3 separate regions of the Homo sapiens genome follow, and regions 2 and 3 are each linked to region 1. The links come from fine-mapping of genetic effects on gene expression. A gene starts in region 1. Each other region holds a variant in brackets. All regions are shown on one strand. Distances are from middle to middle.

Region 1 (2,670 bases):
CAAGACAACCTGGTAGTTTACCGGATTGCACTCCCCAGAAGAAGGCAAGGAGGAGGGTGGTGTTGTTTTCTATATCCTTCAAAGATATATTTAATTACCTCATCTTCAAGCATGCAGAGACAATTCAAATAGGGTAGAAGGAGAGGGAAATGGGGGAGTGAAATCAATTCACTGTCTCAGTCAAATCAAGCAAAAGCCCCATGACTACCTGCAACATGAGAGGCAAACATTTACGGAGGTGGGGAGGGATCACCCAAAGAGCTTATACAGATGGACCCTGGCTAGAATGAGGACCTGTGAGGATGCTATTCCTGAGTGACCTTTATTTCACCTCACTGCTCTCCAACATGTGTGCTAAATCTCCTCTAGATGAGTCAAACAACAGGACAATTGGGAAAGAAGTGACATGACATCAAAATATAAGCCCCCCTGGGCTTGCCAAACTCAGCAAGACCTACCTAGAGATCTCACTTCTTCAGTATAATTTTTGGAATGAGTTTCAGGGGCCAAAAGTCTCTTTTTGCCTTACCTACTTTGAAGTCATAGCAAAACAAAAACAGGTGATCCATGTAAGCAGTTGCTAAACATAAAAAAACAAATGCACACACAAGGTTTACTAAATGAATCCACATCCAACTTAGCAAGCATCACGTCAGAGCTAATAATTGGTCATTAATCTCAAAGAATCTATTTCAAAATGTGCAGTCAGAAATTAGCAAGCAGGAGCATATGTTCCACAACTACAGACTCTACGAGTGTATCTTGTAACGCTGCCATTTACCTTCAAGAGAAATTTGCGATTTTCTAAAGAAGAAAGTTGTCAATCACTTACGTACATAGAATTTAGGGTGGGGGATTGGGAGAGAGACCACAATATAGCTCACCAAGAAACAGAAGGGACTCAGAACAATCATGTAAAGGAGAAAAGAAACCAGTTCCAGTCCTCACATGGGCACCGAGACTGTTTCTGCCCTGCCTGCCAGAACACATAATCAGGAGGGGTAGCCTTTCTAAACATTGCCTCTTTCTGTTGTTACATTGTTTCACAAATTCAGACAAGCCTCTAGGTATCATTCTCTTTTTTCTGTGAAGTAAAAATTCCTAAAGACTTCTTCTCCTTAAACCTTTACCATCCCCCTACCCCCCGCCCAGGCCTTCTAAGAGACAACACTTGCCTTCTGCTTTTCCTCCAGCTTCTGGGCAAAATAAAGTGCCTTCCATGGGATGTCTTCCAGACCGTCCTGTAGGATCTCACACCCACCTCTGTGAGCAAACCGAGGGGGGCACCCCATCTACATTGACACGAACACGATTGTAGGGCTTTAATTTTATTTCGTCGACTTCCCTTTGCAGCTTGCCTGTCTCTCCCATGTCTGCCACCCGCAGCAGGAGATTAAAAGAACAGAGGAGGTAGGAGCTCTTGTGAGAACCACGGGAATTTTGGCAGAACCTTTATGGGAACCATATGGCAGCAACTCTGAAGTACATGAAACATTTCTAAGGGAGAAGAACTCTATTATTCCCAAAGAATGTTTCTCATCTGACTCAAGTGCACTGAGCACCCCTGCCAAAGGATGGGAATAATATTTTCTGGAAAGACTGTATGGATGCAGATTATATCTGATCTCAATGTATCTAATAGTAGCAGATCAGCATTATACCCCACAATCTATTAATAAAGGGAAAAGACAATATGTGTGTTTCTGATATTCCCTAGCTATTCATAACCTTCCTATAACACATTTTACTCATCTTTTGCAATGAAGGGACTGGATAAGATAAGTGCCCTTCAGTTTTTTATCTTTGCAGCAGTCTCCTTTGGTCAATGGAGACCTCATTCAGAACTCCAGTACACAGGAACGATCATGATGGATCAGATATTATTGAAGCAAGGGCAGAAGGTCTGGCTGCTCTTTTTTGGCCTCTCCCTCACTTTTTTCTTCTTTTCCTTTCTTTTCTTTTTCTTTTGTTTTTTTTTTTTTTTTTTTTTCAGGTTTCTTTCCCAGACTATTACTCTTTGTTAACTTTAAACAGGTAGAACAAGGAGAGACATCTGTCCCCTCCAGTTCTACCAGAGCCAGATATGCCTTGCTCTTCTGTTCAGAAACACAAGACAGTGAGTTCACACTGCCTTCAATGGGTCCATGACTTTCCAACCAGCCCTGCAGTGTAAAGAGACTCTTCACATAGCCATCCAGTGAGCAGCAGTCAGCTAATGACCAAAAGCAGTACTCCTGGAAAAGAACCCAGAGCACTGCCTCAGGACTGGGCAGTGGAGGAGTCCCAGGTAATGGATGAGATGCAGACAAGCAGAAGGGATGTGAAAGTGGCTGAAGAAGGTTCTTCCAGGCAGGAAAGAGTCCTGGAGATAATTTTTTTCTACCTCAAGCCCTAGAGCTCTATAAACAAATCTAACTTCCTCGCATAGAGGGGTCACAAAAAGAAGTCCCAAAAAAATCATGTGTGGTAGTATTTAGAAACAGAAATAGCAAGAAAAATAGCTGTATAGTGGTTAAATTATGGGTGGTTGAGGCAGAAAATACGCCTGCCTTGAATTCTAACCTTTTAATCAACCACATAGAAAACAGATGTTAAGATTTGGAACAAACAAACAAACCAGCTTGGACTGGAGAAGTGAATAATTCTGTTCAGAAACACTAAGTCAGGATG
Region 2 (2,670 bases), 230 kb before region 1:
CACCAAGAGAACATATGCAAATAAATTACTCCACATCTCCATTATTCTGCTTAACAGAGATTTCAAACAGCATTCCCTAAAATAAAAACCCTGATGTCTCTCCCCTTTCCCAAGTGCTCCACTCAATTTTCCTTACTTTAGTAAATTTCCACTCCTTATTCCAGTTGCTTACAACAAATACCTTGCTTTATCCCTTATCTGATCTGTCAGGAAATCCCACTGGCTCTACTATCAAATACATCCCGTATCTAACAACTCACCACCTTTATAACACCATCAGCTGTCACTCAGATTGCTACAATAGCCTCCTAACTAGCTTTCTTGTTTTTGCCAATGTCCCCTCAATCTATCATTAATACACTGAGCATAAAAATGTGCATGATTTACCTTATATCTCTGGCCTGGTCTTCTATTCCTCCTATTCTTCCATTTCCCCAAAACTGCATTTCAGTCGCATTGGCCCACTAGCTGTTTTTAAGATATAGCAAAAACACTCATTTCAGGGACTTTGCCCTTTCTCCAGGTACCTGTATTTTTTGGTTGTTTTTGTTTCTATTTTGTTTTTGCTTATCTCCTTTTATCAAATCTCAGTCAAATCTTTTCTGATGTTCCTATTTAAAACTGGACCAGGTAATAGGGGATTAAGATGTCCAATAGGAGTCAGGACTAGCTTGCAGCTCCCACTTGGGACAGACAGAGCAGTGTGTGGAGACTCATATCATGAACTTTTGCTCCCGGAACTACCAAAGAAACATACCAGGAAAGCTGAAAGACTCACAGACCCTTTGAAAGAACTGGATCACGGCTGCAGGCTCCCTGAAAAACTGTGAGTCCGCTTGCTTTCTCAGCGAGGAGGCTTGTGGTATAGGGCAAGTTCTCAGCCCTAGTCATTTAGTCACTGGCTGCCTGGAAATACACTCAGTGCTGTTGGGGGAGCACAGTGAGAGTGACACTGGCCTTTAAGACTGCAGGCTGCGTGGGAGCAGGGTGAGGCCTGTTACTGCTGGCTTTCCTCCACTTCCCCGGAGACCTGTATGACTCAGCAGAGGCAGCCATAATCCTCCTGGAAACGTAATTCCATTGGCCTGGGAACTATACCCCCATATCCCACAGCAGCCACAGCAAGCCCCACCCAAGGAGAGGCTGAGCACAGACAGGCTTATTCCTGCCCCACCTGGTGCTCTTTCTCTACCTCCCCCACCCCTTGGTTGCTGAAA[A/T]CAAAAGGACATAATCTCTTGGGAGCTCTAAGGCCCTGCCCCACTGCCTGTGAAACCTGAATACTTAACCAGATAACCCCAGGGCAAGTTTGCATCTTTCCTATAGTACCACAGCTGGTGCAATCTTGAAAGCACAACCTCCTGGCTGGAGGCCAACCAACAAAAAACCAGCACTCTAAACAAAAACACAACCAAGGGCCCTCACAGAGTCCACTTCACTCCCCTGCTACCTCCACCGGAACAGGTGCTGGCATCCACAGCTGAAACACCTGAAGATGGATCACATCACAGGACTCTTTGCAGACACTCCCCAGTACTAACCTGAAGCCCGGTAGCTCTGCTGGGTGGCTAGACCCAGAAGAGCAAAAGCAACCACTGAAGTTTGGCTATCAGGAAGCCCCGACCCTAGGGAAAGGGAGAGAACATCGAATCAAGGGAACACCACGTGGAACGAAAGAATTGGAACAGCAGCACTTGAACTCCAGATCTTCCCTCTGACATATACAAATACAATGACATAGTATACCCAAATGAGAAAAAAATAGAAAAACAATTCTGGTAATATGACAAAACAAAGTTCTTTAACACCCCCAAAAGATAGCACTAGCTTACCAGCAATGGATCCAAACCAAGAAAAAATTCTCTAAATTGCCAGAAAAAGAATTCAGAAGGTCAGTTATTAAACTAATTAAGGAGGCACCAGAGAAAGGTGAAGTCCAACTTAAAGAAATCAAAAGCATAATACAGGATATGAAAGGAAAAATATTCAGTGAAATACATAGCATAAATAAAAACAATCACAACATCTGGAAATCAAGGACACAGAGAAATGCAAAATGCACTGGAAAGTCTCAACAATAGAATCAAATAAGCAGAAGAGAGAACTTCGGAGCTTGAAGACAAGGCTTTCAAATTAACCCAGTCTGTCAAAGACAATGAAAAAAAAAAAATGAACAAAGCCATCAAGAAGTTTGGGACTATGTTAACCATCCAAACCTAAGAATAGTTGGTGTTCCCAAGGAAAAAGAGAAATCTAAAAGTTTGGAAAACATATTTGAGGGAATAATCGAATAAAACTTCCCAAGCCTCGCTAGAAATCTAGACATCCAAATAAAAGGAGCTCAAAGAACACGTGGAAAATTCATGGCAAACAGATTATCACCTAGGCACATAGTCATCAGGTTATCTAAAGTTGAGACAAAGGAAAGAATCTCAAGAGCTGTGAGGCAAAAGCATCAGGTAACCTACAAAGGAAAACCTATCAGATTAACAGCAGATTTCTAAGAAGAAACCCTACAAGCTAGAAGGGATTGGGGTCCTATTTTTAGCCTCCTGAAACAAGACAATTATCAGCAAGAATTTTGTATCCAGCAAAACTAAGCTTTATAAATGAAGGAAAGATGCAATCTTTTCTAGGCAAACAAATGCTGAGAGAATTCACTACTACCAAGCC
Region 3 (2,670 bases), 36 kb before region 1:
CTAACAGTAACTATTATTAGTTGGGTGAATGGGCCAGAAAGAATGGAAAAATAACTAATAGTAATTTGGCTGTTTGAGTACTCAACTGAGAACCTGTCATAAGGCATCAATTTAAGGGTGCCTGCAGCAGTGTTCAGCTCCAAACAAGGTCAGTAAAAAACGGCAAGTGCACAAGCAAAGAGGTGCCACCTATTCAGGCATAATACTCCGTCCATATCTATTTGGAGACTCTTGAGATGGCTCTGGTGTTTCTGTTTTACAAGTCCTGACCAGCATGTGTAGGACATAATGACATGTCAGTGCGTATCAAGTGTCAGTGTAAAGTATTGGTTTTGAATTTACCCAGGCATCTCATTAAAATGAAAAACACAGTGTAAAATTTCAAATGAACCTAAGCCTCTGTCTGGTTTGCTCATAATTCAGGAAAAGTCATAAACAGAAAGATACTTGTCTCTATCCACAGCCAGGGCCCCAACTAAGTACTGCATTGTGAAATGAGTCATATCCCTGTAAGCAATGATTTGAAATGTGCTATAATTGCTATGCTGCCCATGTCACCCAAGGAGAAAACAAAACATCTAAGTAACATCACTATGCCTTACAAACTGTCAAACGTTCATCGATGATTTCATCTCATACTGGTGATGACCCTTCAGTGGTTTCTTTTACAATAACAGACCTGCCAGCTTGGTCTAAGAGAAGAGGAAACTCACAGAAAGCAGAGCATGGGGCTCATAATTAATTTCATCACTACCATCCGGGCAAAACCCAGAAGCCTATATTTTAATTGGCTTGCTAACATATTTGAAAACAACATTTCTAATGAGATTATTTTTTTCCACATTCAGAAATAATGAGAGAAAAAAGCAACAGTTATATTTTAAAATATCTTAATACTTGGTATTGGGAATTTAGAAAGCTATTATCTATTTAGCATAAGTCAACTTGACATTCTGCTGAAACTAAGATTTCGCTCCGGTTAAAAAGCACTTGGAGGCCCTGGCATGAACAGCTGGATTAACAAAATGGAATAGAGGAAATGTTTGCATTACTTTGCTAGGGCTGCCGTAACGAAAACCCACTAACTTGATAGCTTAAAGAAAAGAAATGTATTGTCTTATAGTTATGGAAGCTAGAAGCTCAAAATCAAGGTGTCATCAGAGTTGACTTTTTCTGAGGACTGGGAGGGGAGAATCCATCCCAGACCGCTGCTCTTTGTTTGTAGATGGTCATCTTCTCTCTGTGTCTTTTCATATCATCTTCCCTCTATGTGTGTCTAGCTCTGTGTCAAATTTCCCCTTTACG[T/A]CTTTATAAAGACACAAGTCATGTTAGATCAGGGCCCACCCTAATGGGTCATTTTAACTTGATTACTTCTGTAAAGACCTTTATCTACAAACAAGGTCACATTCTTAGATACTGGAGGTTGGGACTCCAACGTATCTTTTTTGGGGAGAAACAATTCAACCCATACCAACAGTTAAAATAATCCTTCTGGGAGTGCAAATGAATTGCTTTAATTCCATCCATTTACGTGTTTGCTATCAACTGTCTCGGCTAACAAGATAAAACAAAGACAAATCAGAGCTACATTGTCACAAAGTTTCATTGCTGAGAGGTTGGTTTGGTAATGCCTGTCCAGTTCATTAGAGACAGATATATCAAGAGTAATTTTCTTGCAGACTCCTGCCATTATTGACACAGTAAAACTGACTAGTGAATGTCTACATGCCTATTCATCCTATATCATTTATGACCATTACCATTCACCAAATTTTTAAATTCCAGTAGCATGGAACCCTAGAATTCTACATTTAAATGTATCTATCACTGACATTCTTAGGGATTCTAAGTACTATCTCTAGCAAAATATCTTCTTCTCTAAAGCTGAACAAAAGAATACTGCAATGTGACAAATTAAGATGAATTTTGGCTTTGCATCTGAGAAAGTCTATAGAGACTTAGACTCTCTTGCACTGACCTGGACTCACAGAGAGTTTTATTCTGTGAAGAAGAAAGAATGTTCCCATGATATTACCATCATAGAGAACCAAATAGGCCATTTCCAGCCCCACTGCATCATCTTGACCAAACTCAGAAAATGAACTATCTTCTAAAGAAATAATTCAGTATATATAAAAAGATATTCATCCAAGAATTATTTCTAGTAGCAGAACTTTAAATGTGTACTCTATCATCAATCAGTAAAGATACCATTAACTATGTTATGTTTACTCTATGAATGATTAAAGTGGTAAACACAAAGATTATATAGCATCATCACCATGTGATTCTACAGCAAAATACACAGCTGACAGCTCTGTTCATGCCCACAAAGTTTTCAATCAACTTTTAAGTGCCTTCCTCTTAAATTTAAGGAGAAAACTAGGTGAGATTTAAGGAGGTCAGTAAGCCCCAGGAAAGATGTCCCCAAGAACATGAAATGTATAGAGTATCTGATGTGTTTCAATGCATGAGAGCAGATTGAGACAACTGAGGGAAATATCAATGTTGAATAAGCGATAAGTACAAAGAGAATTAAGAAAACAAATAAGCAAGACAAATAGTAATTCAAAGGAAAAACAAAAAGTTGTGTAAAAAAGGAAAAAAAACATAGAATACTATATGAATAATGTAGTGTTCTGAATTTTGTATCTTGGCAATATATCGTAT

Which allele goes with the higher level. Positions count from the first base shown, and alleles are read on the strand shown. Sizes are in standard deviations (SD) of each study's normalised expression. Not every link is listed here.
With allele A in place of T in region 3, the expression in cerebral cortex of the gene that starts at base 1,422 in region 1 is higher (moderate effect, 0.43 SD a copy in GTEx).

What was found.
Region 2: its variant is fine-mapped to the expression of LINC02607 in nasal epithelium (TOPMed, PIP above 0.99).
Region 3: its variant is fine-mapped to the expression of LINC02607 in cerebral cortex (GTEx, PIP 0.92).

What each region holds. Positions count from the first base shown.
Region 1 is chr1:95,508,868-95,511,537 of GRCh38, reverse strand. It overlaps LINC02607 (long intergenic non-protein coding RNA 2607), which reads right to left and starts at 1,422. Exons shown (of 2, transcript NR_110622.1): 1 at 1,176-1,422.
Region 2 is chr1:95,741,290-95,743,959 of GRCh38, reverse strand. The region is part of intron 1 of LOC101928219 (a long non-coding RNA gene); the gene reads right to left. Among named protein-coding and RNA genes, the nearest start is that of LINC02607, 230 kb to the right of the region's middle. RefSeq lists an enhancer at 380-1,579. The variant A/T (reference allele first, on the strand shown) is at 1,218.
Region 3 is chr1:95,545,056-95,547,725 of GRCh38, reverse strand. No RefSeq gene overlaps it. Among named protein-coding and RNA genes, the nearest start is that of LINC02607, 36 kb to the right of the region's middle. The variant T/A (reference allele first, on the strand shown) is at 1,306.